7 linked regions of the Homo sapiens genome follow. The protein of the gene in region 1 purifies or fractionates together with the protein of each later gene. This does not show direct contact. Each region holds a gene or a part of one and is shown in the gene's direction. Other genes may lie near its edges. The genes, in order: DNAJB2, RFWD3, RLIM, TRO, LACC1, RNF19B and CTSA.

Region 1 (3,527 bases):
ATTAAATTACAACAATAATACATTGTTAGACTTCTATAGTAACAGCCATGAAAGCAAGACTCAAAGCATCTTGTGACAATATTGTTATTATTACCTATAAAACAGATAGTGGTATTTTTTAATGATAGATATGTGCCAAATATTTTACATTTCGTAAGTCTCTAGTGAATCCTGACAGGTGGGCAATTTTCTCCCCATTTGCAGATGAGAAAACTGAGGCACAGTTAATAGCCCAGAGTCACATAACACATGGCAGAGCTGGACTCCTAGCTGTGTCTGCCTGTCATCGCGTCATGATGATTTGCCTGTACTGAAAGAGCCATCTGTCCTCCATCCCTCTTCCCCCTCCTTCCTTCCTTTATTCTTTATTGTGGACAGAATTAACCAGTGAGTGTTTTCGAATTCAACATTAAAAAGGAATTTATAAATAAGCCCAACTAAAAAGCGGAAAAGAAAAACCCTACCCAGTTGCTTAGTGGTTTATACTTCCAGACTTGGGCTCACACACTTTTGAGGGGAAATGTCATTACCAGATGACTGCTAATCTGTTTACTTGTTGCAGATGACCTGGGCCCCTTCTCAGAGCTTCAGAACCGGGGTTCCCGACACTCAGGCCCCTTCTTTACCTTCTCTTCCTCCTTCCCTGGGCACTCCGGTAAGTTCTGCCCCTTCCCACGTTTGCAAGCTCCGATTCCTGGAACCCCTGGCTTGAGCTTGTTGCTTTTCCAAGCCTGTCTCCTGTGTTGGGAGCCCTGCCTCCAGCAGCCCTGCGAGGCGGCCTGGAGCCTCGGTGACCACAACAGGCAGCGCAGTCTTCTTCTAACCACCTCTCCTCCTCCTCCCTTGTCCCGATGCCAGATTTCTCCTCCTCATCTTTCTCCTTCAGTCCTGGGGCTGGTGCTTTTCGCTCTGTTTCTACATCTACCACCTTTGTCCAAGGACGCCGCATCACCACACGCAGGTGAGAGCTCCTTCTGGGGCCATAGAGGGGTGAGAGGTCTGCTGGGGAGCTGTGTTCAAATAGAAAGTTGGCTCCTTGAGGGCAGGGCCCAGTCTGCGCTCTCTACTGCGGTGGCCAGAACTGGGACCAGCGCCTGCAGGATTCTGTCACTGCTCGTTGCCTGAACTGTGCTGTCTCCCACAGAATCATGGAGAACGGGCAGGAGCGGGTGGAAGTGGAGGAGGATGGGCAGCTGAAGTCAGTCACAATCAATGGTGAGGAGCAGCTCCCCTACCCAGCCCCTGGCAGGAAGCCCCAGCCCCAACCTCAGCAGCCTCCTCCCCAAACTGCTGCTCTCTGAACTCACTTAGGGCTTGGGAGGGAGTGGCAACAGGCCAGACTGGTAGGATCAGAGATGGCAATGTCGGGAAGGGGGTGAAGGAGTCTCACGAAGCCATCGCCGTCACTGTGAGTGGGGTGCCTTACATTTGCAAAGCACTTTACTATTTTTAAAGCACTTCCAGATATACGATATCCTCTGTATTCTTCAAGCATCTGGGGGAGTACACAGGGCAGATGGTATCCACTTAGTTTTAATTTGGGGAGCCTGAGCTGCAGCATAGTTAAATGACCCTAACTTCCAAGTAGCCCAGGCCCAAGACTCTTTCCTTCCAAGTAAGGAGTAGAGCCAGGAGTCAAACTCAGGACGCACGATTCCCGGAGCAGAACTGCCCCTGCAACACCATGCTGTGCAGGGCCGTCACCACAGCTAACCTTTCACGCCTGCTGACTCCCAGCACTGCGTACCAAGCCCTTTACATGGGCTGACATATTTAATCATTGGAACAATTTGAGTATGAAGGCACTATCATCATTCCCATTTTCTTTTTTTTCTTTTTTTGAAACAGGGTCGTGCTCAGCCCAGCACGATTATGGCTCACTACAGCCTCGACCTCCTCGGCTCAAGCAGTCCTCCCACTTCAGCCCCCTGTGTAGCTGGGACTACAGGCGTGTGCTACCATGCCCAGCTAATTTTTAAACTATTTTGTAGAGATGGGGTCTCACTATGTTGCCTAGGCTAGTCTCGAACTTCTAGGCTCAAGTGATCCTTCTACCTCGGCCTCCCAAAGTGTTGGGATTACAGGCATGAGCCACTGTGCCCGGCCATCATTCCCACTTTCTAGATGAGGAAAGGGAGGGGTAGGGATGTTGAGTGACTTGCCTAAGGGTAGGAGCTTCTACCTGGTAGAGCTGAATACTTCCTTGTGCTCAAAATCACAAGCCTAGGTGCCAAAATGCATGTGTGCCAATTCCAAATAAGAGACTCTAAGTGGTCAGGGTTGTTACTGTGTGAGGCAGCCTGGCAGTAATACCCCTGGCTCAGGTTGGGGCCTCATGGTGGCTGTGACTCTTGCAGGTGTCCCAGATGACCTGGCACTGGGCTTGGAGCTGAGCCGTCGCGAGCAGCAGCCGTCAGTCACTTCCAGGTCTGGGGGCACTCAGGTCCAGCAGACCCCTGCCTCATGCCCCTTGGACAGCGACCTCTCTGAGGATGAGGACCTGCAGCTGGCCATGGCCTACAGCCTGTCAGAGATGGAGGCAGCTGGGAAGAAACCCGCAGGTGGGCGGGAGGCACAGCACCGACGGCAGGGGCGGCCCAAGGCCCAGCACCAAGATCCAGGCTTGGGGGGGACCCAGGAGGGTGCGAGGGGTGAAGCAACCAAACGCAGTCCATCCCCAGAGGAGAAGGCCTCTCGCTGCCTCATCCTCTGAACACCGGGCCCAACCTGATCTGATCCAGATCTTGACTGGGGGGTCTGACTCACTGTGGGAAGAGAAGAGGGGAGTATCCTGAGTTGTAGGAACTGCTTTCCAACTCCAAGCTCCCTCCACAAGTTTCCCTCCCAGGCCCCCCACACCCCAGTGTGGACTTGGGATTTGCTGTGCTCAGCCCAGGGCTGATAGGTCCCTGGTGAAGCCCAGGGTGGGGGGTGTCAGGGCAGTGGAGGGGCCCGAGGAGCCAGGTTGCATTTATTGGATGGGGAGCTCCAAGGGGCATTAGTGGTTTGGGCTGGGCCTTTTGTGCCCTGGTACTCTGCCACCTGTGTTGCTGATGGTGTCAAGGAAGGAGGACTTGGCCTAGGGTTGTCTGAGCCGGAGCCGGCAGCTCCACTGGAGAGCAGTGCAGGCAGAGTGGAGCCTCCTGCTCTCCTGGACCAGCTGCAGACCCCCAACCCTGGTTTCTGTGCCATGTTGCGCTCTGACCGTCTCTGTTGCTTCTCTTCTGGTGTTGCTTCTCCTCCCTCCCATTCTCTCTGCAACTCCCTGCGGGCCGCATCGCTTGCTTTCACTGCCGTCTGGCTAGGACTCCCTTCTTCCTTCCTTCCCCGAGAAGGCCTCAATGTGGCGAGGAAGATGCTGGGGCCGGTAGGGCTGTGAGATCTTCTGGGGAGGCTAGCCGGGTGGGGCGGGAGCCTCTCAGCTGTCCAGATTCAGAACTGGAGCCCACTCCTCCTCCCTCTCGTTGCCTCAGCCTGCCCTCACCCTCAGGACTAGGCAGAGGTGAGGCTGGCTCACCCTGAAGAGG
Region 2 (4,569 bases), on another chromosome or scaffold:
TAATGTCTCTTGAGTACATCTAGAAGTAGCTTGGGCCTTATGTTCTGACACACAATTCTTGGGAGACTGTCGTTGTACCCTAGAAACATTAAAAGCTTTTAGTTAGGCAGCTGCAGTAGCTCACTCCTGTAATCCCAGCACTTTGGGAGGCTGAGGCAGAAGGGTTGCTTGAGCCGAGGAGTTGAAGACCAGCCTAGGCAACGTGGGAAACCCCATCTATACAAAAAATGTTTAAAACTTGAAGTATCTCACATTGTTCAGTTTGCAGACTTTCTTTCCCACTTATTTTCAGTACTGTGCCACTCTCCATCCTGAGTGTAAGCCTGTGTGGTTCAAACCTCCAGTTTTCTCGTGCATAGGGGGAGAAGGGCTTTGTTCTGTGTTTTGTTTTAGCTGGCTGGTGTTTGAGTAGGAGTCAAGCTAACTGCTTTACTGGCTTTTAACCAGCCCTTCTCTTTTAGCGCCATCTTTCAATATTGCCTTTTGTGGTACCTGGTTTTTACAGTCCCTTTAGTGGGAATCAGCTTGCTTCTCAATAACACACCTCACCCCAACCACTGTGCCCTTTGCAGGCTTTGAGTTTTATCTTTTGGCTCTGCTAAGCAGTCATCAATCATCAGTTTCTCCTTTATGGCCTTAAAAAACTGGTTTGCATATCATACCCTGTTTGCATTTGTGTCGTCCTGGTTAATTTATCCTTTCTTAAAAAAATGTCTCAGGTTGTGGGGGTCATGTTCGTGGGTTTTAGGAATGACTGGAGTGGAGAGAGAAAGATACATATATGTACTTCGTCCACTATGTTTATTAGAATTCCTTCCATTTATTCAGCCTGCACCAGTCTGGCCTCTGACCCCACCACTTCAGGGAAACTGCTTTTTTAGGTCACCTGTCATCCTCATGTTGCCAAATCTAGCGGCCGTTCTTCCCCCCAGTAGCACTTGACACTCAATTGTTCCTTCCTTGAAACATTGTTTTTCCAAGACACCACATTCCCATGTTTCCTCCTACTTTATAATCTTCCTTAACTGGCTTCTTTTACTCTGTTGTACTTTTAACAGTAGTGTCTCTGACTTTAGTCTTCAGCCCTCTTCTGTCATTCTGTTCCTCAGGTGGTTTAATCTGCTTTGATGATTTTAAGAAACATGAGTATTGGCCGGGCGCGGTGGCTCATGCCTATAATCCGAGCACTTTGGGAGGCTGAGGCTGGCAGATCACCAGGTCAGGGGATCGAGACCATCCTGGCTAACACAGTGAAACCCCGGCTGTACTAAAAATACAAAAAATTAGCCAGGCGTGGTGGCAGGCACCTGTAATCCCAGCTACTCGGGAGGCTGAGGCAGGAGAATGGCGTGAACCCGGGAGGCGGAGCTTGCAGTGAGCCGAGATCGCGCCACTGCACTCCAGCCTGGGCAACAGAGCGAGACTCCATCTCAAAAAAAAAAAAAAAGAAGCATGACCATTCTGAAGATTCTTAAAGCTGTCTGTTTGTTTTCATCTCCACTGCTACCACTCTTGCCTAGGTCTCTCTGACCTCTGGTCTGGACTCCCACAATAGCCTCTACACTGGTCACCTAGCTTATGCTCTTGCACCCCTACAGTGCATTCCTAACATAGAAGAAACTCCTTACCAAGGCCCATAGGCCCTTTAATAATGGTGTCCTGTTCATCAGTGAAACCCATGCTCATCAGGGACCTATGCACTGATTTCCTTCTGAGACTCTTCTTGGCTCTTTGCATAGCCAGCTGCTTTTAATCCTTCATGCCTCAGCCCAATTTTCACTCTTTAAAAGAGTACTTCCCTCACAATTGTGTCTTAGTTGGTCCTCTTTGTCTCCTCAACCCCAAACATCATAATCTATAATTTTTTTCATGTATTTGTTTATTGACATCTTACTTGCTAGAATCTAAACTCTGATACATGGGGTCTTATCTGTTTTTGCCTCTAGGGTGTCTTGTCTGCATAACAGGTGCTTAATAACTATTAGTTGAACCCCCATTTCCTCATAAGTCAGATGAAAATAAAAGCACGTGCCTTACTTCACAAAGTAATTAAGGGGATAAGTTATACTGATGTACTTTAAAAACTAGGTGGTAGGGAGGCACAGTGGCTCAGTCCTGTTGTCCTGATGCATGAGGAGGTAAGGCCAGGCATTCAAGACCAGTTTGGGCAACATAGGAAGCCTTCATCTATATAACAAAAAAAAATTTTTTTTTTTAGTTTAAAAACTAGGTGGTAGTTTTCAAACTGATACAATGGAATTAAAGATAGGAAACATGAAAAGAACATAGGTGCTTAATAAATATTTGTTGAATACGCTAACATGATGGAATTAGAGATGGAAAACAAAAATAATGAAAGGGATAGGATAAAGTTTGCTCAGCCTTTTTGGAAACATTAGGTAAGTTTCCATTTTGAGTTAGTAACAGTTAATTTTGCAAGTGTAAAAAATGTCCTTTCTCTATTTATCCCTTGTAACTGTTGATGCTGTGAAAGATTAATATTGCCTGCTAAAATTAGATACTGCATTATATGCATTTGATTTTGGTGAATGTCCATATTCAGCTTGAGAGAACTGCAAAGTGTCTGAGAGATTACTTTTAGACCCAGTAGTTTAATCTCCTTGGTTTATAGATCTTTCTATTTTGGAAGATACTACTATGATCACAGGACTTCATGTTTTCTAAGGGCAAACCGGAAAACTGGTTATAAATGCTTGTTATAGAGAGGAAAGTCCATTACCAAACACTTCTGACTTAAGTAGTTAAAATCTTCTCTTGAAGCTTCTCAGTCTTGCTAAGAATGATATTAAACATAAAATCAGAAAGATTAAATATGATTCTGTCACCTACATAGCATGTTTTATCTATTTTATTAATACTTTTTACAAATACTGTTTCTCTAGTGATGGCTCATGAAGCAATGGAATATGATGTTCAGGTGCAGTTAAATCATGCCGAACAACAGCCAGCTCCTGCTGGCATGGCCAGCAGCCAAGGGGGACCAGCCCTCCTCCAGCCTGTTCCTGCTGATGTGGTCAGCAGCCAGGGGGTACCATCCATCCTCCAGCCAGCTCCTGCTGAGGTGATCAGCAGCCAAGCGACACCACCCCTGCTCCAGCCTGCTCCGCAACTGTCTGTTGACCTGACAGAAGTGGAGGTCTTGGGAGAAGACACTGTGGAGAACATCAATCCAAGAACTTCAGAACAACATAGGCAGGGATCTGATGGTAATCACACCATCCCAGCATCTTCGTTGCATTCAATGACCAACTTCATCAGCGGACTGCAGAGACTTCATGGCATGCTGGAATTCCTGAGACCTTCATCTTCAAACCACAGTGTAGGGCCAATGAGAACAAGAAGGAGGGTATCTGCTTCACGGAGGGCAAGAGCCGGAGGGTCTCAGAGGACAGACAGTGCCAGGTAAATAAATATATGGATAAGTCTGTGATCATTGCTGTACTAGAAATTATGAAACTGAGGCTCTGCCATTCAAGGACTGACAGTGTGACTTTTGGCAAGTCAGGTAACTTCTGACCCCCAGTTCCTCATAGGTGGAAATAAAAGTGCTTGCCTTACTTCACAAAGTAATGAAGGGATAAGTTAAACTGTTGTGCCTTGAAAACTAGGTGGTAGTTTGTTGGCAATCTCTGTAGAGATTGGCTGTTGTTCAGATTGTGTCTTGTACACCAAAAATTCTTTCTTCACTTGCAAGTCTCTACTCACCCAAATTCATTATTCACTGGCATTCCACCTGGGGGCACAATTAATTAATTTTCTTTCATAGTCTTGGTTTGAACTTGCCTCTTGAAGGGCTTAGCTGTCAAGTCTTGACAGGGTTATTATGAAGAATAACAATTGCCTATACCCTGTCCGTTTTTTGGTTTTTTGTTTTTGTTTTTGAGACAGCGTCTCACTCTGTCGTCCAGGCTGGATTCCCGTGGCACAATCTTTGCTCACTGCAACCTCCATCTCCCAGATTCAAGCGATTCTCCTGCCTCAGCTTCCCCAGTACCTGGCATTACAGGCGCGTGCCACCACACCTAACTAATTAAACCTGTCTGTTTTTGGTTTTGTTTTGTTTTGAGATGGAGTCTCACTCTGTCGCCCAGGCTGGAGCGCAGTGGTGCGATCTCCGCTCAGAGAGGGCTTTGTTCAGGGTCTCATAACTATAGAATAGAGGAGTTAGCACTGATATTGGAGCCTGGATCTGCCCTGTTTTCTACATAGGCAGATGGAGGAAGCTTCGACGAAATCCCTTTGTTTTCTCTTTCTTCTTGTTTTTATTATTGTTATTTTTGAGACAGGGTCTCACTGTGCTCCCCAGGCTGGAGTGCAGTGGTGCAATCACAGCTCACTGCAGCCTCGACCTCCCCAGGCTTAGGCGATCTTCCTACCTCAGCCTCTTGATGATTAACTGGGACTACAGGCATACGCAACCATGCCGATGTTTTCTAACACTGTGAAAATATTGAGATGATACTAAAAAGTGGTAGCTAGGTCATCTATTACCCATGTTTTACAAATGAGGAAGCTGATGGGATAATTTGTGATTTGGTTGTGATAAGG
Region 3 (4,569 bases), on another chromosome or scaffold:
TACCAATACCTGTATAGAACAACAACAACAAAAAATTTGTTGTCTTATATCATTGTTGGAATGGCATGAGTATAAGTAAAATAACATTTAAATGTTCATTGGATAACTAAATGAAATATCAGAATAGCTTACGAGAGTATAATTTTACGTTACTTTGTGTGTGGTGGTTGATTTTTTTCCTTTAAGATTCAAAAATTCATAATTGATACATGATACTTTTAATTGATATTGACTCCTTTCATTATTATTATCATCATCATTAGGGTAACCACATAATTTATTGCCTAACCAAGACACTTTTAAGAACAAAAGGAACATTAATAATTCCTGGACAGCAGGTGCAAACCTTGATTGTCCCCGACAAACTGGGATGGATACTTAGCCTAAATTCATAACCAACTTCTGCTGAAGGCCTGTGGTGCTAGGCCATGTGCTTTATATGCATTATTTTATAATTCTCACAACAGAGCCTCATGAGAATGTTAACTTTTATAGAGGAAACCAAAAACCCAAAGAGGTTAAGTATAATTTGTCCTCAGTTAAATAGCTTTAAGTGGTGGAGCCCTCATTTTATCCCAGGCCTGTCTGACGTTATACTTCTGGGTTTGATTGCTGTCTAATTAGATAGGAAATGCAATGAAAATGAAAGGTTGTAGTAAAAAGTCTGTAGGTTATGTTGCATCAGAAACTTTTGTTAATACTTAAAGGTTATCCAGCAATCCCCCCTTTTCGTCTGTTACGTTCCTGTTTCAGCTATTATGCATGTTTACACATATTTATTGTTCTATTTCACAGGCCCTGTAATTGGATGGGCTCATTGATAGATGTTAAATGGATAGCTCCTTGTATATCATTTGATAAACTTAATTTAAAATCAGAAATGATTTTAAGAAATAGCTTAATAATTAAATGATCTGGAAATACTAGGCTGGTTGGATATCTTTGAGGTTAGTGAACATGTAGTGAGCCTTAATATAGTAGTAGGTCAAATGAGGCATCTGCATTTATGGAATTATATTATATGTACATTAATTTTTCCATGGCCATGGTGGATTAGAAATAGAGCAAATCACCAGCCAGCCTCCTGTTCTCTTCATTTACCATAGAGTGGATGACAAATTAGAGAATAAAAAGTCTTCTGTCAAACCCAAACCAATGAGGGCCTAGAATTTTGTGCCACTGCCTAGAACTGGACAGGTTTTTCTTTAACACAAAGATTTCTAAAACCTATGGCCCATTGATTTCAGAAAGTATCTAGTTTACATAATAAATTGAAGTTCTGATGTCCAATATAAGAAAGTAATAACACTTCTGTATCTATTTTTCTTTCATTTTTTTTTCTCAGCCTCAAACATGAAAGTTTCCCAGATAATCCAGCAATTCATTTCTCTTTTTATCAATTGAGGTATTTTTATTTATTTATTTTTTATTTTTTTATTTTTTTGAGACGGAGTCTCACTCTGTCGCCCAGGCTGGAATGCAGTGGTGCACTCTCGGCTCACTGCAACCTCCACCTCCTGGTTTCAAGCAATTCTCTTACCTCAGCCTCCCAAGTAGCTGGGAGTACAGGCGCTCTCCACCACGCCTGGCTAATTTTTGTATTTTTAGTAAAGATGGGGTTTCACCATATTGGCCAGGCTGGTCTCGAACTCCTGACCTTGTGATCTGCCCACCTTGGCCTCCCAAAGTGCTGGGATTACAGACGTGAGCCACCGCGACTGGCCAATTGAGGTATTTTTTAAATATACCTCAATTGGGGGAATATATTTATGAACTTGTGGTTTTTCTCCTGACATATATAGTTGGTATTTTTGCTCTAGATTTTCTTATATTTTAATGTTCCAACACAAGGGTTTTTTTTTTTTGGTTTTTTTTGTTTGTTTGTTTGTTTGTTTGTTTGTTTTTTGGTTAGGAGGGCAGGACGAGTTTTGCTCTGTCGCCCAGGCTGGAGTGCGGTGGCACGATCTTGGCTCACTGCAACCTCCGCCTCCTGGGTTCAAGCGGTTCTCCTGCCTCAGCCTCCCGAGTAGCTGGGATTACAGGCACGTGCCACCACGCCTGGCTAACTTTTGTATTTTTACTAGAGATGGAGTTTCACCATGTTGGCCAAGCTGGTCTTGAACCCCTGACCTCAGGTGATCCGCCCGCCTTGGCCTCCCAAAGTACAGGGATTACAGGCCTGAGCCACCGCGCCTGGCCACCAATCCAAGAGTTTAATTTCATTAGTCACAGTAGCACCTACATATCTGTGAGACAAATAATCTGTAGGCAGAGAGCACTTGGTGCATTACATAGATTGGTGGATTTCTTGCAATAATTTTGCAACTACAGGTTGGTTTGCTTTTATAACATTTGAGAGTCTAATGGCGTTTCCATGATGATGAACATGTTACTTCCTGGGAGAAAGGAAGTATTTGTGTTTGATGTTTAAAATTTTTTTCTGGAATGACAAAAGGTCCCTTCTGATCTCCCCTTGACTATAGGAGGAAAAGTGTTAACTACAACTTTTGTTTTTTATTGACCAATGATCCCTTTAGTGCTGATTATAACTAAGGAGACCATATGAATTATCTAAACTGGGACACTTTTGAGAGTGAAAGGGAGAGCCATATTACTGATTACTTCAGTACAAGTGTAAACCCTTACTCTTCTGGACAAACCAAAGATATATTGTCACCCTCTTCATGTTATTTTTATGTAGGTATACTAGTTCAGGAAGGACAATTGTCAGCATGGTTGGTCTTAAATACAAAATTACTTCCTCAAATAACTGATTGGTATAGATAATACTTTCTTTTTTAGTTAAGTGATTTTAATTTTTTTTTTTTTTTTTTTTTTTTTTTTTTGAAACGGAGTCTCGCTCTGTCGCCCAGGCTGGAGTGCAGTGGCGCGATCTCGGCTCACTGCAAGCTCTGCCTCCCGGGTTCACGCCATTCTCCTGCTTCAGCCTCCCGAGTAGCTGGGACTACAGGCGCCCACCACTACGCCTGGCTAATTTTTTTCTATTTTTAGTAGAGACGGGGTTTCACTGTGTTAGCCAGGATGGTCTTGATCTCTTGACCTTGTGATCTGCCCGTCTCGGCCTCCCAAAGTGCTGGGATTACAGGCGTGAGCCACCGCACCCGGCTAAGTGATTTTAATTTTAAAAATTGGCTTCAATCTTTAAAAACCTGATTTTTGATGGAAAAATCTTAGGTCCTTAAAATAGTGCCTTAGTTACTGATGAACACCAACATTGTCAGTTATCAGTGATTTTTACCTTAGTAACTTAAACACATGCACTCCTTGGGTTTTTGAGTCATTTTCTTTTTGACTTCTTAGGAATAATGAGAGAAGCAAGTCAAAACGAGTTTATGGATAAGACCAAATTATAATTTAGTGGCATAGCTTGATAATAAAAGAACATAAAACGGGTAATTGAAGATTAAATTCACTGTCTAGATTAAAGTATTTGACTGAGATGAAATGTCATAATGGTTTCCTTTTTTAACTAACTTGATCCTGTAGATCAACCGCATTTGGCATGGTCTTCAGTCCTTTGATTTACTGAAGTTCTTAACACTCTTTCAGTTTTAACTGTTTTAGAGCGTTTTAGTAAAAGTTGTTTGAGCTGCAAGTCGGTGCGTACATGAGGAACATTCCTGAGTCCTTTTAGTTTTTCTCTGCTGTCCTTTTCAACTGGTAAAGATAGAAGAATGTAAGTGGAGGCTAAGCTAACTGCCATTCAGATATTTTATAATCTCTTATTGTTATGGTAGCATGAGCAGTGGGGGATACCTTGGTAGCATTTTCTGATAGGCCACTCTTGGAAATTATCAACAAATTTTTTAGTTGGTGAGAGGTATCATGCAATAAGGAAAGTCAGTGAGACATTAACCCTGCCTGTTCTTTTTTTTTTTTTTTTTTAGGAATGCTTTATATTTCTTTTCAAAAAGATAACTGCGTGAGTGGAGATAGAAGTACATTGAGTGAAATGGTAGTGAGAAAAGCAGAGCTTATAAGCTTATGTCCTAGTTATTTGTGCTGTTTCCTAAACTTAATATTTCTTAATATCGTAATGTGGTGTAGGTTATATCTTATTTACAGTTACAGATTCATAGAACTGGAAAGTACCTTGCAGATGGTTTAATCCAATACTCTAATATTGATGGAGACTTCTCTGGCACAAGAGGTTAAATGAATTGGCCAAATCCACATAACCAAGTTACAACCAAGACTGGATTTCAGTATCTCTTTTTTCCTTTCACAGAGCTGAGTTTCACCCTGCTACCCATGTGTAGAATAAAAAAAGATACCTGGTTGTTAGCAAATATTTTTCTGTTACAAATACCATAACATTTTAATTAAACATTCTATATATGAAGAATCCCCAACACTTTTGGTGCCTACATACGTAATGATATGATGGTACTTTTTGTTTTCTGGCCTTAAATTCAGCAGTTCTTTGTGATTTAACTTTTAAAAAACTGAATAAAGTATTTTTCATTTTGGTGATGGTATTTAACATTTTCTTCATTGACACAGATCACATGTCACTAGTTCTTAAAGGACTCCTTTATGAAGTTCTTT
Region 4 (4,569 bases), on another chromosome or scaffold:
ACTGAAAGCCAGACTCCAAATGCTGACCAAGGGGCCCAGGCCAAGATAGCCTCTGCTCAGACCAACGTAAGTGCCCTTGAGACTCAGGTTGCTGCTGCTGTCCAGGCCCTGGCAGATGACTATCTGGCTCAGTTGAGCCTGGAGCCCACAACCAGGACCCGGGGCAAAAGAAACCGAAAGGTGAGATCTCTGACATTGCCATCCTTAACTTTGTGCTTCTTTTCCATTTCTACCCTTCTAGTTTGTTCATTTCTTCTATAAAAGTTTTACTTTGAGCTAGTCCCTGTGTTCAGATAGGCTGTGGAAGATGCTGAGAAGAAGGTGATATAGTTTCTGCTCCCTAGCAGTTCACAGATTGGTGAGGAAATAAGACATCCATACACTCAGCTACAACCTGTATGTAATACTACTTGTATTTAAATAGTAGTTACCACGTGCCAGGCTTTGTGTTGGGTACAGTTACACAGGGTATGTCTGAATGTCTTGAAAGTAACTCTTACCAACAAGGGATCATAGGTCCCAGTTTTACACTTAAGAAAACTGAGTCTCAGAGAAATGAAGTGACTTGTCCAAGAGGTACCAGCCAGCATAATTGGTGGTAGCCAGAGGAAGAGAAAGACCCTTAGGCTCTTATCTTGAGTTGTTCCTGGCCTGGCAGAGGAACGAAACTCCTTCCTGGAAGACAGTGAAAGATAAGCTCAGGACTCAGGGTGGCCAATGGCAAGGTCAGGATCAGGCTCCACTACAGCAAGGCTGAGGGAGGGGGTTAGAGGGACTTTCTGTCTGGAGCAGGCAAGGTGAGGAGACAGAGCCATCTCTTTCACCTGGTGACTCTGGACCTTCCTTCTTTCTGATGATGAAGTCCAAGCATCTGAATGGGGATGAGAGAAGTGGCAGTAATTACAGGCGGATCCCATGGGGCCGGAGGCCTGCACCACCGCGAGATGTGGCCATTTTACAAGAAAGGGTAAGAATCCAATGCTGTCCAGTCTCTTCTCTTCTTCACTTGCCCTCTTCTCTGCCTCCTTCCAAGTTTTCTGCAAGCATGTTAAGATCTCTCCATCTATTCCTCTCCTCCCAGGCTAATAAGTTGGTGAAATACCTGTTGGTTAAGGACCAGACAAAGATCCCCATCAAACGCTCAGGTAGTGTCCTACCAACCCTCCTCCTTGAGCTCTCCTCTCCACTCCCCTCTCCTCCCATAGTCTGGGAGTAACACTTTATGGCCTCTTTGTTCTGTCATATCTCCACACCTGCCCTCCTTGCACTCTGCCATGGCTGGCATCTCCCATTAACTCACTTCAGGTCTCTGATTGCACTGACCCAACAGGACTGGCAAAAGGGCTGCAGCTCTGTGGCCCCTGCTAAGCTCAGCTACTCTCACCTCTCCTTTTCTACAGACATGCTGAGGGATGTCATCCAAGAATATGATGAATATTTCCCAGAAATCATTGAACGAGCAAGCTACACTCTGGAGAAGGTGAAGGGGCAGTGCTGGCGGATGGGCGCAATGGGGAAGCTTTGAATCGAGCAAAGACATACATGTCCCTTTTGGAGAGAATCACAGAAACATGCTAATCCAGCCCCATTACTGTGTGAATGGGCAGACAGTGGCCTAGGGAGAGGTGTAGATTTGCCATGGGTCACACAGCATGTCAGTGATGAAAACATGGCTAGGACAGAAGCCACTCAAATTAGTCTCAGCTTCTATTCATAGTTGGACATATTCTGCATGTATTTCAGATCTCACCTCTCCCTTGTATCCCCATTTTCTGTCTCCCTAGATTCCTGCTCATCACAAAGATGATGTTGATGACAATAGTACATTTGCTGTGTGTTTACTGGGTGCCAGGCACTTGGCTATGTGCTTTATGTGCATTATCTCACTGACTTCTTACACATGCAGACCCCCTAAGTACACTGGGAGTTTTAGGATGCCCGGAAAGTTCACTGATACCTAAGCTGAATTTTGTGATCTCACAGGCTATTCTTTTACTTGGCAGATGTTTCGAGTCAATCTGAAAGAAATTGATAAGCAAAGTAGCTTGTATATTCTCATCAGCACTCAGGAATCCTCTGCAGGCATACTGGGAACGTAAGCTGGGAAAGGGCTGGAGTGGGAAGGAAGCTTCTGCTTTTATCTGTGCTGCTACCCCTTCTTTGTCCTACTTCCCCCATCCTCTTAGAGAGTCAGGAAAAACAGGGTCTCAAAAGCCCTGTCTCAGCACCTGCACATAGTTGGAGCCCTGCTCACAGTAGTGGCACCTGATTATGATTGACTGAAGGGTATAGGAGCCTAGGGTGGGACATTCCTGCTGTCAGGTTTGCTGTCTCTGTAGAAGCTTCCCAGGAAAGCAGGCCTGTCATTGCTTGCCTCTTCCGATGGAGTGCCTGGCCTGGCTTTGACAGAGTGGTTCTCAAGGAGGGCTTCCTGGTGTGGCTGGATCAGTATGCATGAAGCGCAAGAGTGTCAGTGGGGCTGAAGGTTCTGGGAGAGAAAGAAGGGACTCACATTGACTGAGTGCTTGTGTTGTACCAGGTTGACAGCCATTCTTCCATCTTCTTGGCAACCTGAGGAAGGGAGAATATGATTTTCCCATTTTACTGAATAATAGACCAAGGCTTGCAAGGTCTAAGTGCCTTGCCCAGGGTGGCATAGAGCTGGAAGCAGAGACTGGGCAGAATTCTGTATCTGAGGAATCTGGGAGAGGTTAGCCTGGTGAGCTGGCTGGTGTATCTTTTGCGGATGGCTGCTGAAACATAAACCTTCTTTCTGTCCTGTTGAAACATAAACCTTCTTTCTGTCCTGTTATTCCCTTAGGACCAAGGACACACCCAAGCTGGGTCTCCTCATGGTGATTCTGAGTGTCATTTTTATGAATGGCAACAAGGCCAGTGAGGGTGAGTGGCTGGGCATGCAGCTGAATGGGCGGCCATGGTCTGGATTCCATGTGTTCAATTTCTGTCCCTGTCTCCTCTTGCCTCCCCTCACAGCTGTCATCTGGGAGGTGCTGCGCAAGTTGGGGCTGCGCCCTGGGTATGACTGGGCTCTCTCAGCGCTTGCTGTCCGTGTTGTCCTTTGGCAAGAGAGGATGGTCCTAGGATTGCATCAGTCTGGTGGTCTGGTGGAGCGGGTGGGGTGCTGGACTGGGTAGAGGGCCCAGGGTTCTGACCTGGGTGGATGACGGGCAAATGGTCCTGAACTCTCTGCTGTCTCTCTCCTTAATGTCCTCTGTCTGTTCTAAGCTGAGATGTTAGATAGACCTTCAGGGATCCCTGACAAAGAGGCATCTGGTCTTAACTGCTTGCTTCTAGTGGCCATGTGCTCATTACTTTCTTCACTTCATTGAGACTGCCCCATGTGCTAGAGAGGTCTCTTCCATGTTGGGAAATGCCTCTGCCCTCATCTGGGCAGTTCTGATCTGTGTTCATGGGTTATTTTTCCCATTGTCAGGGTGAGGCATTCACTCTTTGGGGAAGTGAGGAAGCTCATCACAGACGAGTTTGTGAAGCAGAAGTAAGTGGTGTTTGGGGCTTTGTCTGGCCCTGAAGTGTTCTGGGTATACTGATCTGGTTCAGAAAGTGCTTAGTCAGTGCCTTTCTTATACTAGCTTTAGAGGGATGGGCATCCTGTGTCCTAGAACTGATACTGTCTAAAATTCCCATGGGCAGACCTTTCCAGGACTGGGCCAGACTCAACACAAGGCCCTTGCAGTGGGGTGCGCTCAGAGCAGAGGGCCTTAAGAATGGCTCCTCTGTTTACAACACACCCAACAGGAATCTGGGCTTACTCCTCACAGGTGGCATGATACTTTGGCCTTCCTGTGACATCATGCCCTATACATGTCTCCCCTGGAGAAGCCCAAGGGACTGCTTTGCACAGGGCCAGTGGGAAATGGCTCAGTATTGGAGGCCAAGACCATAAACTGTGTTTGGTAGTGAGTCTGGGGCTGGAGGGTCTTAGAAATCCCTCTCCAGGGGCTGTTTGTATTTGTTTGGAGGAGGTTGCCACCTGGTGTCTAGTGCTTAGACAGCAGGGTTGCTTGGTTAGAAACAAGTTTCATTTCCTTTTTCCAAGGTACCTGGAGTACAAGAGGGTCCCTAACAGCAGACCACCTGAATATGAGTTCTTCTGGGGCTTGCGCTCCTACCACGAGACTAGCAAGATGAAAGTCCTCAAGTTTGCATGCAGGGTAAGAGGAGAGCTGCCCGAGCTTGGCATATTAAGGCAATGGGATACCCTTGGCTGGGGCAGGCAATGCACAGGGATGGGCAGGTACAGAGCAGCCTGCAGCTCATATATAAACATGTGGAGCCTCCTTTATGTCCCAGGGTGCTGCTAGATATATAGTTTACATCATCTCATTCATTCTTCATACTTTGTATTAATCAGCATGGGCTGCCATAACAAAATACCATAGACTGGGTGGATTAAAAAACAAATTTATTTTCTCATAGTTCTTGAGGGCGAGAATCCTAGGTCAGGGTCCACGAGGGTCAGTTCCTGTTGAAGGCTCTCTTCCTGGCTTGCAGATGGCTGCCTTCTTGCTGTGTCCTCACATGGCTTTG
Region 5 (4,569 bases), on another chromosome or scaffold:
TCTTCAACAGATATTTTCATACATGGATTTACTACAAGAACAGGTGGGATATCTTATATACCAACTCTTAGCTCATTCAATCTCTTCAGTAGTTCCAAACGGAGAGATCCCAAGGTAGTGGTTCAAGAAAATCTGCGTAGGTTGGCGAATGCTGCAGGATTTAATGTGGAGAAATTTTACCGAATAAAGGTAAAATTTTGCTTTATATTTTGAAAGATCTAAAGTATATTTTTTACTTTGCTAGTAACTACATGGACTTTAAGCTATTTAACTTTTGTATCTGCTTTTTTATCTAAAGTTTTAGAATAATGCTGTGGTTGTCTTTCTTAGATTTATACACCATAGCCTAAAGATAAGTTCTATTTTATACACACACACACACACGTGCAGATATATATATATATATATATATGCACACACACATATAGTAAGTCATCCTTTAATGTTGATAGGTTCTTAGAAATTGTGACTTTAAGTGAAACGACATAATAAAACCAATTTTACCATAGGCTAATTGATATAAATAAGAATAAAGTTTCTAAGGCATATTTCTTGTCACAAAAACATCACCAAACTTCTAAATAAAGACCAACACATTCCTAGTATTAAACATTGAAATAAATGTGAGCTAGACATATATTTACAAAACAGTAAGAAAGACAAATAAGATAACTACCAAATTATTTCGGTTCAGGGCTTTAGGTAGCTGGAGTCTATTCTGGCAGATCAGGATGCAAGGCCACAACCCACCCTCGACAGGACACCATTCCATTGCAGGGTGCCCTTACACACACACACACGTACTCATGCTGGGACCATGTAGACACCCCAATTCATCTAACATGCACTTCTTTGGGATGTGGGAGGAAGCTGGAGTACCCAGAGAAAACCCATGTGGACGTGAGGAGAAGGTGCAAACCTCACACAGTCAGTGACCGGGTGGGTAATCAATTTTTTTCATTAACATTATAATGAAATGATGTGGAATAAAATGACATTATTCAAGAGCCTACTGTATATTTCATCTGGAGTCCTCAATTCTAAAAGTACAGTTAATTCTCAGAGAGTATACTACCACTGCTCTTTTTGATTTAGAAGAAAGGGAACTGAATGGTGGTAGAGAAAGGCCATTATTTTATAAATCTACTCCAGGAGGAACTAGGGTCATAGTTGATGAGATAATGTCTTGTTCCTTACAGAATTCTAGCTTTACTTGAGTCTTGGAAAAGTAAAAGTATCATTGATTTGTTAATTAACTTTCCTTTACAAGAAAAATTTTCATTTTGTAGAAAGTGCTATAAGAAATGATATACCTATCTTTATGGAAAGATGTTCATTATTCACTATATTGAATTTTATAATGTTAAACTCTGCTTTTCTTTGCATAAACTATCAGAGATTATAATCTAAAATCTTAAATAGTTAAATTATAAGTAAATTTTGTGTTTTCCCATATATAAAAGTGATATATTTAATGAATGCTAGTAATCTTAAACTGGTTATATAATTTTATACTACAATGAGTACCTTCGAGAAAGCTTATGGTATAAGAAATACTATTTCCAAAACATTTTTGTTGCACATTTTTGGTATTAGACTCATCATTCCAATGACATCTGGATTATGGGAAGAAAGGAGCCTGACTCTTATGATGGAATAACCACAAATCAGAGAGGAGTCACAATAGCAGCTCTTGGTGCAGACTGTATACCGATAGTTTTTGCAGATCCAGTCAAAAAAGCATGTGGGGTTGCTCACGCTGGTAAGTATACTTAATTAAACATTTAGAATTTTACTCATTTTGTTGTGCAGGAAAAATTGTAATTTCTTTCTGATGGACATGGCAAACAGTTAATTACATTACACTGTGGTAAGTGTAATGATGGGAGAGGCGGCATAGTTTTATTATAGGGACAGCTAAGAGGAGTATCTGCATCAAATTATATGAATTATAGTAGAATTCCCAAAGGAGGTGGCACCTAGGTTGATTCCTGAGGAATTTGTTGGTTTTGGCTGGGTAACAGTGTTCCTTAGCAAGGGTGCTATTAACATTTTGGGCAGGATAATCCCACATTGCAGATTAAGTGTCTTTAGCCCCTGAAATCCTTAATGACAGTAGCACCTCTAGTTACTGTAATAACCAAGACCAACCAACCAACCAATCAAACAACAACGAAACCCTCCAAGCTTTTCAAAACACTCCCTAGGGGAGTGGTACTGCCTCTGGTTGAGAATCCTTGAAATCCAGGCCATAGGAAATAGGAATGTTAGGCATGTTGCAGAGAAGTGTTCACCCAGATGGAGCTGCATGTGTAAAGCTAGGGAGGTAGGAAAAAGCAAGATGTTTTGAAAACTGTTTTTAGTTTACATCACTTAATGTATTTAACTGTAACTATTCTCTGAGAGCAAAGAAGTATTTTTAGAAGGTATATTGTGTTAAGGATATGGAATTTTGTTTTCTGAAGGTATTTTAAAATAGTATTTTAGATTACCCCATAGCTGTGATTTTGTGTGAAATGAGGGATGATCTTTAAAATTTCCTTCTACTTGTAAATCTATGGCTACTTTGCTTTTTAGCTCATAGGTAAAAAAGAAAGTAGCATATTTTTATTTTGACCTAGCTGAAATAATGGGATTGAATGAGTAGAAGTCAGGTTTACTACATGACATTGTCAAAAAGTTATTTAAAATTTGAGTCTTGGCTCCTGGATATAAAAAGAGGATATTATTTTTTTACTTCTTAGGTTCGAAAACATTTAGTTTAAACATATCCAAGATCAAGCAGTCAAAATGAAGTTATAAATGTGAATTTCAAGTCATTAATAAGTTAATTTTGAAAGAATAAAATACCTAGGAATACAGTTACCTTAACCAAGGAGATTAAAGGTCTCTACAATGAGAAGTACAAAACACTGCTGAAAGAAAGCAGAGATAATATAAACAAATGGAAAAACATTCCATGCTCATGGATAGGAAGAATCAATATTGTTAAAATGGCCACACTGCCCAAAGCAATTTATAGATTCAATGCTACTCCTATCAAACTACCAATGTCATTTTTCACAGATTTAGAAAAAACTATTTTAAAATTCACATGGAACCAAAAAAGAGCCCAAATAGCCAAAGCTATCCTAAGCAAAAAGAATAAAGCTGGAGGAGTCATATTGCCTCCCTTCAAGCTGTACTCCAAAGTTACAGTTACCAAAACAGCATGGTACTGGTACCAAAACTGACACATAGGCCAATAGAACAGGATAGAGAACCTAGAAATAAAGCCACACACCTACAACCATCTGATCTTTGACAAAGTCGACAATAACAAGCAATGAGGAAAGGAATCCCTGTTCCATAAATGGTGCTGGCATAACTGGCTAGCCATATGTAGGAAATTGATACTAGATCCCTTCCTTTCACCATATACAAAAACTAACTCAACATGGGTTAAAGACTTAAACATATAGCCTAAAACTATTAAAACCCTAGGAGGAAACCTAGGAAATGCCATTCTGGACATAGGCATAGGCCTTGGCAAAGATTTCATGGTGAAGACTTCAAGAGCAAACAAAAACAAAAATAGTCAAGTGGGACCCAATTAAACTAAGGAGCTTCTGCACAGCAAAAGAAACTATCAACAGAGTAAACAGAAAACCTACAGAATTGGAGAAAATATTTGCAAACTATGCAGCTGAAAAGGTCTAACACCGAGACTCTATAAGGAACTTAAATCAACAAACAAATAACAATCAATCCCATTAAAAAATGGGCAAAGGACATGAACAAACGCTTCTCAAAAGAAGACTTACACGTGGTCAACAAGCATATGAAAAAACGCTTGATATTACTAATCATTAGAGAAATGCAAATCACAACTACAATGAGATACCATTTCATACCAGTCAGAATGGCTGTTATAAAAAAAGTCAAAAAACAACAGATGTTGGTGAGATTGTGGAGAAAAGGAAATGCTTACACACTGCTAGTGGGAATGTAAATTAGTTCAGCCACTGTGGAAAGCAGTTTGTATATTTCTCAAAGAACTTAAAATTAGAACTACCATTCAACCCAGCAATCCCATTACTGGGTATATACCCAAAGGAATATAAATTATTCTGCCATAAAGACACATGCACACGTATGTTCATCACAGCACTTTTCACAATAATGAAGACATGGAATCAACTTAGATGCCCATCAGTGGTGGACTGGATAAAGAAAATATGGTACATATACATAATGGAATACTATAAAGCCATAAAAAAGAATGAAATCATATCCTTACAGCAACATAGATGCAGCTGGAAGCCATCCTAAATGAATTAATGCAGGAACAGAAAATCAGATACCATATGTATCCTTTAAGTGGGAGCTACACATTGAGTACACATGGACACAAAAAAAGGGACAATGGACATGGGGGCTTACTTAAGGGTGGTGGGTGGGAGGAGGGTGACGACTGAAGAACTGTCTGTTCGGTACTATGTCCACTACTTGGGTGATGAAATCGTTTGTACACGAAACCCCAGTGACATGCAATTTACCCATGTAACAAACCTGCATATATGTACCCCG
Region 6 (4,569 bases), on another chromosome or scaffold:
GGTAGCGGGTGCCTGTAGTCCCAGCTACTTGGGAGGCTGAGGCAGGAGAATGGCGTGAACCTGGGAGGCGGAGCTTGCAGTGAGCCGAGATCGTGCCACTGCACTCCAGCCTGGGCAACAGAGTGAGACTCCGTCTCAAAAAAAAAAAAGAAAGGTGCAGTAATTTTCCCAAGGTCACTTAGCTGGGACATGAATCAAGTTAATCTGCCTTCAGATCCTGTTCTCTTAACAGCTAAGCCATTCTACCTCACACAGCAGTAAGATTTTGGAATTAACATCCTGAGGAGATCCTAAACTCCAAGCAGTAGTCACTTATTTAATATTTGATTCTTGATTGGCTCTTGATTGGGTTAGCATTTCAGCAGTGATTAGAAGAGGGGAAAATGAAAGCAACATATATTTACTGTGCAAAACACAGTACATAGCATTCTCATTTGATTATTGACAACCCTGGGAAGATAGGTCCAAGGTTATACAGCTAGTAAATGGAGCCAAGAATCTAATCCAGACCTTTCTGATTTCTAGCCTGGTCATCATTCTGTTACACCAGGCCACCTTTTTGGGATAGCCACTTTCTGTCTTCCTTTCTTTATAAAGTGGTTTGTCCATGCCCAGACTGGGAAGAAGAATTCAGGGCACTTGCAACCTAATAGCCAGCTGACATGTTTCCTTCTCTTCCCCCAGGTATTGGTGTCCCCATTATGCTGGCATATGTTTATGGGGTTGTGCCCATTTCTCTTTGTCGTGGAGGCGGCTGTGGAGTTAGCACAGCCAACGGAAAAGGAGTGAAAATTGAATTTGATGAAGATGATGGTCCAATCACAGGTAAAAAGCAGGATGTTTATTTCCATTTGAATTTATGATATACAAGATAAAAATCAGTAAAATTCAGCGCATTTTACAGGGAGATTGTCATTGGATTACTTTGGATAATGAGCTTTGTAGGGGGTAAAGTATTTTTAGCTTTTCATTTCTTTGTTCCAAAGTTATTAGGTTAATTCCCCTGGTACTTGCCTCTGTGTGGCAGGTACAAACTAGTAGGAATCCAAGTAACTCCAAGTATGCTGGTAGTAGTAGTGATTATAATAACATCTTTATATCTGCACAGTACTTGATAATTTTCAGAGTATTTTACACAATTATCTCACTTGCTTTTTACAACAAACAGCTCTCTGACGAGGGAGGATGGAGCTGTTATCCCCATTTAAATGGGAATTTCTTTTTTTTTTTTTGAGACGGAGTCTCTGTCACCCAGGCTGGAGTACGATGTCGCGATCTCGGTTCACTGCAACCTCCGCCTCCCAGGTTCAAGTGATTCTCCTGCCTCAGCCTCCTGAGTAGCTGGGACTACAGCAACGTGCCACCACGCCTGGCTAATTTTTTTTTTTTAGTATAGACGGGGTTTGGTGTTTCACCGTGTTAGCCAGGAAGATCTCGATCTCCTCACCCCATGATCCGCCCACCTTGGCCTCCCAAAGTGCTGGGATTACAGGTGTGAGCCACCACATCTGGCCTAAATGGGAATTTCTTTAAGCTTTCATCTTACTATCTATTAAGAGCTTCACAGAGCTGAGACTAGGGCAAGTCTTCTGACTTTTACTTTAATGTGGTTTCTACTCGTAGTAAGTAACGTAGGGCACAAGTAACGTAGAAAACCCCAAAGGTTTTTCTAGCTTCCTTTTTTCTTTTCTTTTTTTTTTTTTGAGACGGAGTCTTGCTCTGTTGCCCAGGCTGGAGTGCAGTGGCATGGTCCTGGCTCACTGCAGGCTCCGGCTCCTGGGTTCGCGTCATTCTCCTGCCTCAGCCTCCCGAGTAGCTGGGACTACAGGCACCCGCCACCACGCCCGGCTAAATTTTTTGTATTTTTAGTAGAGATGGGGTTTCACCGTGTTAGCCAGGATGGTCTCCATCTCCTGACCTCGTGATCCGCCCGCCTCGGCCTCCCAAAGTGCTGGAAGTACAGGCGTGAGCCACCGCGCCCGGCCGGTTTTTCTAGCTTTCTACTAGAAGCTTCCTATTAAAATCAGCACATGACCCAAACATATTTTTTAAATCTTCACGTTTGGTTACATGGAAGCAACAGTGTAGTGGAAAGAATAGTGGCCTTGGAATCAGAGTTATAGTTTCATGTAACTACCATGGCCTTGGACAAGTCATTTAGTTTTAAATTTTAGTTTTCTCATCTAAAATTGAGGCTATTAATGCCTAGTTATTTGGAGGATTAAATATGAACATATGTTAAAACACCTGATATGTGGCGACTGCACACAGTACCTGTTCATTAAGTAAATACATTAGTTCTCTGAAAAGTCATTGCAGGAAAATGCCTACTGACTGTTTTGATGCTCTGCTGTCTTGAATTGGATGTTTGGTTCTATCCCCAGTGGCAGATGCCTGGAGAGCCCTCAAGAATCCCAGCATTGGGGAAAGCAGCATTGAAGGCCTGACTAGTGTATTGAGCACTAGTGGAAGCCCTACAGATGGACTTAGTGTTATGCAAGGTCCTTACAGCGAAACGGCCAGCTTTGCAGCCCTCTCAGGGGGCACGCTGAGTGGCGGCATTCTCTCCAGTGGCAAGGGAAAATATAGCAGGTAAACAAATAGATAATTTCTGACAGAAATGGTTAGAATTATAAGAAGTAACACATTGAGCCATTTCTCTGTGCCAGGCTTGTGCCACGTATCATCTTATTTTGATTTAATTGTCAATGGTTTTGTTTTGTTTTGTTTTTACTTTTTTATTTTTAAAGACAGAGTCTCACTCTGTGGCTCAGGCTGGAGTGCCATGGCGTGATCTCGGCTCACTGCAAGCTCCGCCTCCTGGGTTCAAGCGATTCTCCTGCCTCAGCCTACTGAGTAGCTGGGATTACAGGCACCCGCCACCACGCCCAGCTAATTTTTTGTATTTTTAGTAGAGATGGAGTTTCACCATGTTAGCTAGGATGGTCTCAATCTCCTGACCTCGTGATCCGCCCGCCTTGGCCTCCCAAACCGTTGGGATTACAGGCATGAGTCACTGCGACAGGCCTTTTTTTTTTTACTTTTACAAATAGGAAACAAGCTTAGAAAAAAAGGTTACGTCAGTTATGCAAAGTTCATTGTTCTTTCCATTGCACCATAGCTGCCTCTATATAAAGAATAATCCTGACTTGAGATTCCCCCTTGACTGCCTGAGGCTGCCTGCTTCAGGAAGGGAGAGTAGGCATTTTTATAGAATTCGTAAAATGCTCTCCGTTAGGCTTGTCATTGGCTTTCAGTAGCATTTATGCTGTATCATGGCTTATTTATTTTATTTTATTTTTTTGAGACGGAGTCTTGCTCTGTCGCCCAGGCTGGAGTGCAATGGTGCAATCTTGGCTCGCTGCAGCCTCCACCTCCTGGGTTCTAGTGATTGTCCTGCCTCAGCCTCCCAAGAGGCTGGGACTACAGGCGTGCACCACCATGCCTGGCTAATTTTTGTATTTTCAGTAGAGACAGGGTTTCATGTTGGCCAGGCTGGTCTCAAGCTCCTGACCTTGTGATCCACCCGCCTCAGCCTCCCAAAGTGCTGGGATTACAAGCATGAACCACCACACCCAGCCCATCATGGTTTATTGATAGTGGGCTTTGGGGATTTTTTTTTGTTTTTTTTCTCACTGTGTCATCCAGGCTGGAATGCAGTGGCACAATCATGGCTCACTGCAGCCTCAACTTCCTGGACTCAGGCAATCCTACCACCTCAGCCTCCTGAGTAGCTAGGACTACAAGTGCACACACCACACCCAGCTAACATTTTAAATTTTTTGTAGAGATGGGGTCTTGCTCGGTTACCCAGGCTGGTCTTAAACTCCTGGCCTGAAGCCATCCTCCCAACTTGGCTCCCAACGTGCTAGGATTATAGGCATGAACCATTGCCCCCAGCTGGTTTAGTGATACTGCAATCCTTATTACCTTTCTATTTCCATTTGCTAGATAAGGAAAATCAATTCTATGTACTTGTGTTGAAAATATGTAAAGCTTTGTAACTAAAAAGATTGTGACTTGCTTGGTCATTTCACTAGTTAGGCAGACCAGAGTGTATATTTTCAGAGGAGCATAACATGTTGCCTGAGAAGCAGTTGAATGCAACGGAGAAGAAAGGCCTAGGGAGGGGTAAAGGTAGAACAAAGCAGGATAGGAAGGTAGAGGAGATGGTTGCCTTCAGCTATCCAAAGGACCTTCAACTGTGAAAAGGATTAGACTTCTATGCCTCATACCAAAAGGTAGATTAAGATGACTTGGCAGAAGCTAAAGGGAAACTAATTTTGGTTCAGTATAGAGAATATAGGGAAAAGCAACATGAAAGCCCAAAGAGGAAAAAGGCTACTTTAGTAGATACTGAGCTGCCTATCCCTGGAAATGTTTACAATGAGACCAGATGGCTATTTGGCTATAAGAAGGATTCAAGCAACAGATGGCAGGTGGACTGGATCTCCCACCTGAGTGCCTGTCAATCACTTGGGAGCCTCTTAAAAATAGACTTCAGGGACCCATCCCAGAATGAGTAGCTTAGAATTTCCTGGAGTGGCACCTAGGGGGTGATCCGTGTTT
Region 7 (3,562 bases), on another chromosome or scaffold:
GAGTAGCTGGGACTACAGGCACGCACCACCACGCCTGGCTAATTTTTGTATTTTTTTTTTTAGTAGAGACGGGGTTTCACCATGTTGGTCAGGCTGGTCTCGAACTCCTGACCTCGTGATCCACTCACCTCGGTCTCCCAAAGTGCTAGGATTACAGGCGTGAGCCACCACGCCCAGCATCCCTGTACCTTTCTAAATGGTGGTGAGTTGAGGCTGTCTGAATCCCAGCCCATCCAGCCCAACATCCAAGTCAGTCCTAGAGAGGTGGCCCCCCCCCAAAAAGGGGAGTGGAACCCAGCTGTCTGCCTTCTGGGTTGGAGCTTGGAGATAGGAGAGAAGGTCTGATCTGTTGACTACTTTTCGCCCCGACCTGGTCTTCCTGGGGCCTGCTCGTATGTTCCCGGCAGCTTTCTGGTAAACTTACAGTACCGCCGTCTCTACCGAAGCATGAACTCCCAGTATCTGAAGCTGCTTAGCTCACAGGTGAGTGGGGAGAGCACAGCTGGATCACCAGCAGCCTTAGGACCCCAGAGTAGCACAGCAAGCTGGGGGCCCTTGAGACTTCCTGTCAGGACAAGGGAAGCTGAAACTCCGAAAGGCGAAGCCCAGGGTCCTGTGATTGGTGGGGTCAGAATTTGAACCTGGGTTTGTCCCCACCCATGCTGTCCTGCTATAGGAGGCCTAGGGGTCTGCATCAGCCACGGAGTCTTAAGGGTGAGAAGAGCTTCATTCATGCCAAAAATGGGCCAGCAGAGGTCCAGGGTGGGAGGAGACCTTGCACAAGGTGATATAGGAAGCACTGGCAGGGCCAAGTTAGGACTAGGTTCTGTCCAGCACAGTGGTTAATAGCATGGGCTCTGGAGTCACATGGCCTGGGTGCAAGTCCCTGTACTAGCCACATAATCTTGGGCAAATTTCTTAAATATGAGCCTCAGGTTCTCCATCTGTAAAATGGGGATAATAATGATATCTACCTTCACAGATAAAACATTTAGTAGAATACTGGACATGCAGTAAGTCGTTAGAAAACATGAAAATTCCCTGGTTCGTGTTATCTAGCTTGGCCCCTTGAATTTCCTGAGGGGTAGGCCTTGAACTAGGGAAGGGCTGGGGACTGGGCTTGTTCCACACCCCTCATTTTTACCCCATCCTGCTTTAGAAATACCAGATCCTATTATATAATGGAGATGTAGACATGGCCTGCAATTTCATGGGGGATGAGTGGTTTGTGGATTCCCTCAACCAGAAGGTAAGGTAGAGATTCCTGGCCCTGGGATAGGGGCTGCTGTGGAGGATTGGGAGCGGGTATGCCTGGGAGTGGCCAGCTGGCTGCCTGGCTCTGGCCCACAGAGGGCAAGTGTGGAGGAATTCCCAGCCCTAAGGTCTTGCTGGTAGCTGTGAGCAAGGATGCAGCTGCTGTAGGCTGATGTCTTTCCTGGTGGGGCAGATGGAGGTGCAGCGCCGGCCCTGGTTAGTGAAGTACGGGGACAGCGGGGAGCAGATTGCCGGCTTCGTGAAGGAGTTCTCCCACATCGCCTTTCTCACGATCAAGGTAGGGACTGGGCCTGCTGAGAGATAACTGGGCCGGAGGCAAAGGAGCAGGACCCACCCGTCCTTTCCCTCTGGCTGCCTTTTAGGCTGGGTCATGGGTCACCATCTGGCCCCTGTATGGGCAAGTTTTTTTGGAGAGGGGTGGGGAGGGTTCTGGGAAGAATAAAGGGTTTGGGATGAAGGAATTGCCCCCGAGTGAGCAGTTATATGGGGAGGAGGGAATGGTGGGGTCAGGAGCTCACGAACATTGCTCCTCAGGGCGCCGGCCACATGGTTCCCACCGACAAGCCCCTCGCTGCCTTCACCATGTTCTCCCGCTTCCTGAACAAGCAGCCATACTGATGACCACAGCAACCAGCTCCACGGCCTGATGCAGCCCCTCCCAGCCTCTCCCGCTAGGAGAGTCCTCTTCTAAGCAAAGTGCCCCTGCAGGCCGGGTTCTGCCGCCAGGACTGCCCCCTTCCCAGAGCCCTGTACATCCCAGACTGGGCCCAGGGTCTCCCATAGACAGCCTGGGGGCAAGTTAGCACTTTATTCCCGCAGCAGTTCCTGAATGGGGTGGCCTGGCCCCTTCTCTGCTTAAAGAATGCCCTTTATGATGCACTGATTCCATCCCAGGAACCCAACAGAGCTCAGGACAGCCCACAGGGAGGTGGTGGACGGACTGTAATTGATAGATTGATTATGGAATTAAATTGGGTACAGCTTCAAATCCCGTCTTCTCTGTGGCACTGGGGGTTAGAGGGGGCACTACAGGCTATGAATGTGGGAAAAGAGGGGCTGAGAGGGGTTGGGGTCCTGAATGACAGCTGCCAGCTTGGGGATTGAGGGCTCAGACAGCTGCTGTGGACGGTGTGGGGGCAGTGGACGCCCTGACATCAGCAGGCCGGTTCTTCTCAATCACCTCTCGCAGCCCTTTGGCAAAGTGGAGATCAGCCCCGATGGTGAGGAATCCCTGTGTTGGGGAGAGGGGAGCCTCATTTATTCATTCAGTTATTGAGGCCAGAGTTTAGAGATCAAGAGACAGAGTGTTTGTCTTTCAGGAACTCAATCTAATGGATAATTCCATGTCAAGGTGTTAAAATGAGGCTGTAGGAGTGTAGACTATGGGTGTCAAGGAGGGCTTCTTGGAGGAGGTGACCTCTGAGCTAAGACCTGAACAATTAGTAGGTATTGGGATGGGAGAAGAGTGCTCCAAGAAGTCACAGTGTGTGCAACGGCTTTTAGGAGTCTAAGATTAAAATGGGAGGGGCGACTGGTAATGGGGGAGCTGGGGTCAGGTAATGGAGGGCACTGGGGAGCTATAGAGAGAGGGGAAGGCCCTCCCTCCTTCCCCATCCTGCCCCCACTCACCGCATGGTTCGTCACCACCTCATGCACAAAGTTGATGCCCTCAGGTAGTGGGATCTGCACCCCACGCCAGGTCCGCTCTGTGGGTGGGAGCACCCCGCTCAGTCTGGGCCCGCCCAGTTCACCCCTCCTTTCTTCCTCCATCCTCACACCCCAGCCTTACCATTGAGCATGGGCATCACCCCAATCTGCAGCATGGTCTTCAGAGGGGCCTGTAATGGGATCAGCTGGGAGGGGCGAGGGCGGAAACAGGGCAGTGAGTCAGGGTTGGGTTTGCCTTTAGCTGCCCGCAGGTGAGCAGTTATATGAGGAGGGGGGGATGGTGAGGGTCAGGATCTCACGAACCCAGCCCAGCCCACCCACCCTTCCCCACTCACAGCCAGCGACTCCAGTGCAGAATGGTTGGAATAGATTCGGAACCTGCGGGAAAGAAAGGAGCCCTGTGGGCAGGAAGCCTGGAAGCTCCCCTTCCTCAGGCCACCCAGGCCTACCTGCCAGAGGTGTCTGAGTTGCAGGCTCAGATGCCCACCTAGGCACCTTTCCAAGTGCTACAACTTTCCAGGTATCCTCGGGGCAGTCATTGCTGCCACTTGGGTCTCCTTTTCTCCAAGACTGCTACTTTTTATTTATTGAGCACCTCTTTTTTTTTTTTTTTTTTTTT

Evidence for each region.
Region 2: the proteins of DNAJB2 (region 1) and RFWD3 purify together in Homo sapiens (affinity purification with mass spectrometry; 3 studies listed by BioGRID and IntAct, with this or other methods). This does not show direct contact.
Region 3: the proteins of DNAJB2 (region 1) and RLIM purify together in Homo sapiens (co-immunoprecipitation; 3 studies listed by BioGRID and IntAct, with this or other methods). This does not show direct contact.
Region 4: the proteins of DNAJB2 (region 1) and TRO purify together in Homo sapiens (affinity purification with mass spectrometry; 3 studies listed by BioGRID and IntAct, with this or other methods). This does not show direct contact.
Region 5: the proteins of DNAJB2 (region 1) and LACC1 purify together in Homo sapiens (affinity purification with mass spectrometry; 3 studies listed by BioGRID and IntAct, with this or other methods). This does not show direct contact.
Region 6: the proteins of DNAJB2 (region 1) and RNF19B purify together in Homo sapiens (affinity purification with mass spectrometry; 3 studies listed by BioGRID and IntAct, with this or other methods). This does not show direct contact.
Region 7: the proteins of DNAJB2 (region 1) and CTSA purify together in Homo sapiens (affinity purification with mass spectrometry; 4 studies listed by BioGRID and IntAct, with this or other methods). This does not show direct contact.

What each region holds. Positions count from the first base shown.
Region 1 is NC_000002.12:219,282,275-219,285,801, forward strand, and holds part of DNAJB2 (dnaJ homolog subfamily B member 2), read left to right. Parts: intron 1-562; coding exon 563-655; intron 656-858; coding exon 859-961; intron 962-1,144; coding exon 1,145-1,215; intron 1,216-2,357; coding exon 2,358-2,713; 3' UTR 2,714-3,527. UniProt on the Homo sapiens protein: Functions as a co-chaperone, regulating the substrate binding and activating the ATPase activity of chaperones of the HSP70/heat shock protein 70 family. In parallel, also contributes to the ubiquitin-dependent proteasomal degradation of misfolded proteins.
Region 2 is NC_000016.10:74,659,786-74,664,354, reverse strand, and holds part of RFWD3 (E3 ubiquitin-protein ligase RFWD3), read left to right. Parts: exon of another isoform or gene 1-2,399; intron 2,400-2,901; exon of another isoform or gene 2,902-2,903; 5' UTR 2,904-2,905; coding exon 2,906-3,423; intron 3,424-4,569. UniProt on the Homo sapiens protein: E3 ubiquitin-protein ligase required for the repair of DNA interstrand cross-links (ICL) in response to DNA damage. Plays a key role in RPA-mediated DNA damage signaling and repair.
Region 3 is NC_000023.11:74,607,765-74,612,333, reverse strand, and holds part of RLIM (E3 ubiquitin-protein ligase RLIM), read left to right. Parts: intron 1-4,569. UniProt on the Homo sapiens protein: E3 ubiquitin-protein ligase.
Region 4 is NC_000023.11:54,923,589-54,928,157, forward strand, and holds part of TRO (trophinin), read left to right. Parts: coding exon 1-180; intron 181-862; coding exon 863-967; intron 968-1,081; coding exon 1,082-1,145; intron 1,146-1,400; coding exon 1,401-1,480; intron 1,481-2,003; coding exon 2,004-2,095; intron 2,096-2,821; coding exon 2,822-2,901; intron 2,902-2,994; coding exon 2,995-3,037; intron 3,038-3,454; coding exon 3,455-3,517; intron 3,518-3,716; exon of another isoform or gene 3,717-3,847; intron 3,848-4,078; coding exon 4,079-4,193; intron 4,194-4,569. UniProt on the Homo sapiens protein: Could be involved with bystin and tastin in a cell adhesion molecule complex that mediates an initial attachment of the blastocyst to uterine epithelial cells at the time of the embryo implantation. Directly responsible for homophilic cell adhesion.
Region 5 is NC_000013.11:43,882,175-43,886,743, forward strand, and holds part of LACC1 (purine nucleoside phosphorylase LACC1), read left to right. Parts: intron 1-10; coding exon 11-189; intron 190-1,596; coding exon 1,597-1,762; intron 1,763-2,744; coding exon of another isoform or gene 2,745-2,794; exon of another isoform or gene 2,795-4,569. UniProt on the Homo sapiens protein: Purine nucleoside enzyme that catalyzes the phosphorolysis of adenosine, guanosine and inosine nucleosides, yielding D-ribose 1-phosphate and the respective free bases, adenine, guanine and hypoxanthine.
Region 6 is NC_000001.11:32,940,275-32,944,843, reverse strand, and holds part of RNF19B (E3 ubiquitin-protein ligase RNF19B), read left to right. Parts: intron 1-684; coding exon 685-825; intron 826-2,384; coding exon 2,385-2,592; intron 2,593-4,569.
Region 7 is NC_000020.11:45,896,558-45,900,119, forward strand, and holds the end of CTSA (lysosomal protective protein isoform b preproprotein), read left to right. Parts: intron 1-407; coding exon 408-483; intron 484-1,159; coding exon 1,160-1,249; intron 1,250-1,447; coding exon 1,448-1,552; intron 1,553-1,809; coding exon 1,810-1,893; 3' UTR 1,894-2,263; downstream 2,264-3,562. Other genes in the region: PLTP (phospholipid transfer protein isoform a precursor), read right to left, coding at 2,384-2,506, 2,905-2,981, 3,065-3,128, 3,279-3,321. UniProt on the Homo sapiens protein: Protective protein appears to be essential for both the activity of beta-galactosidase and neuraminidase, it associates with these enzymes and exerts a protective function necessary for their stability and activity.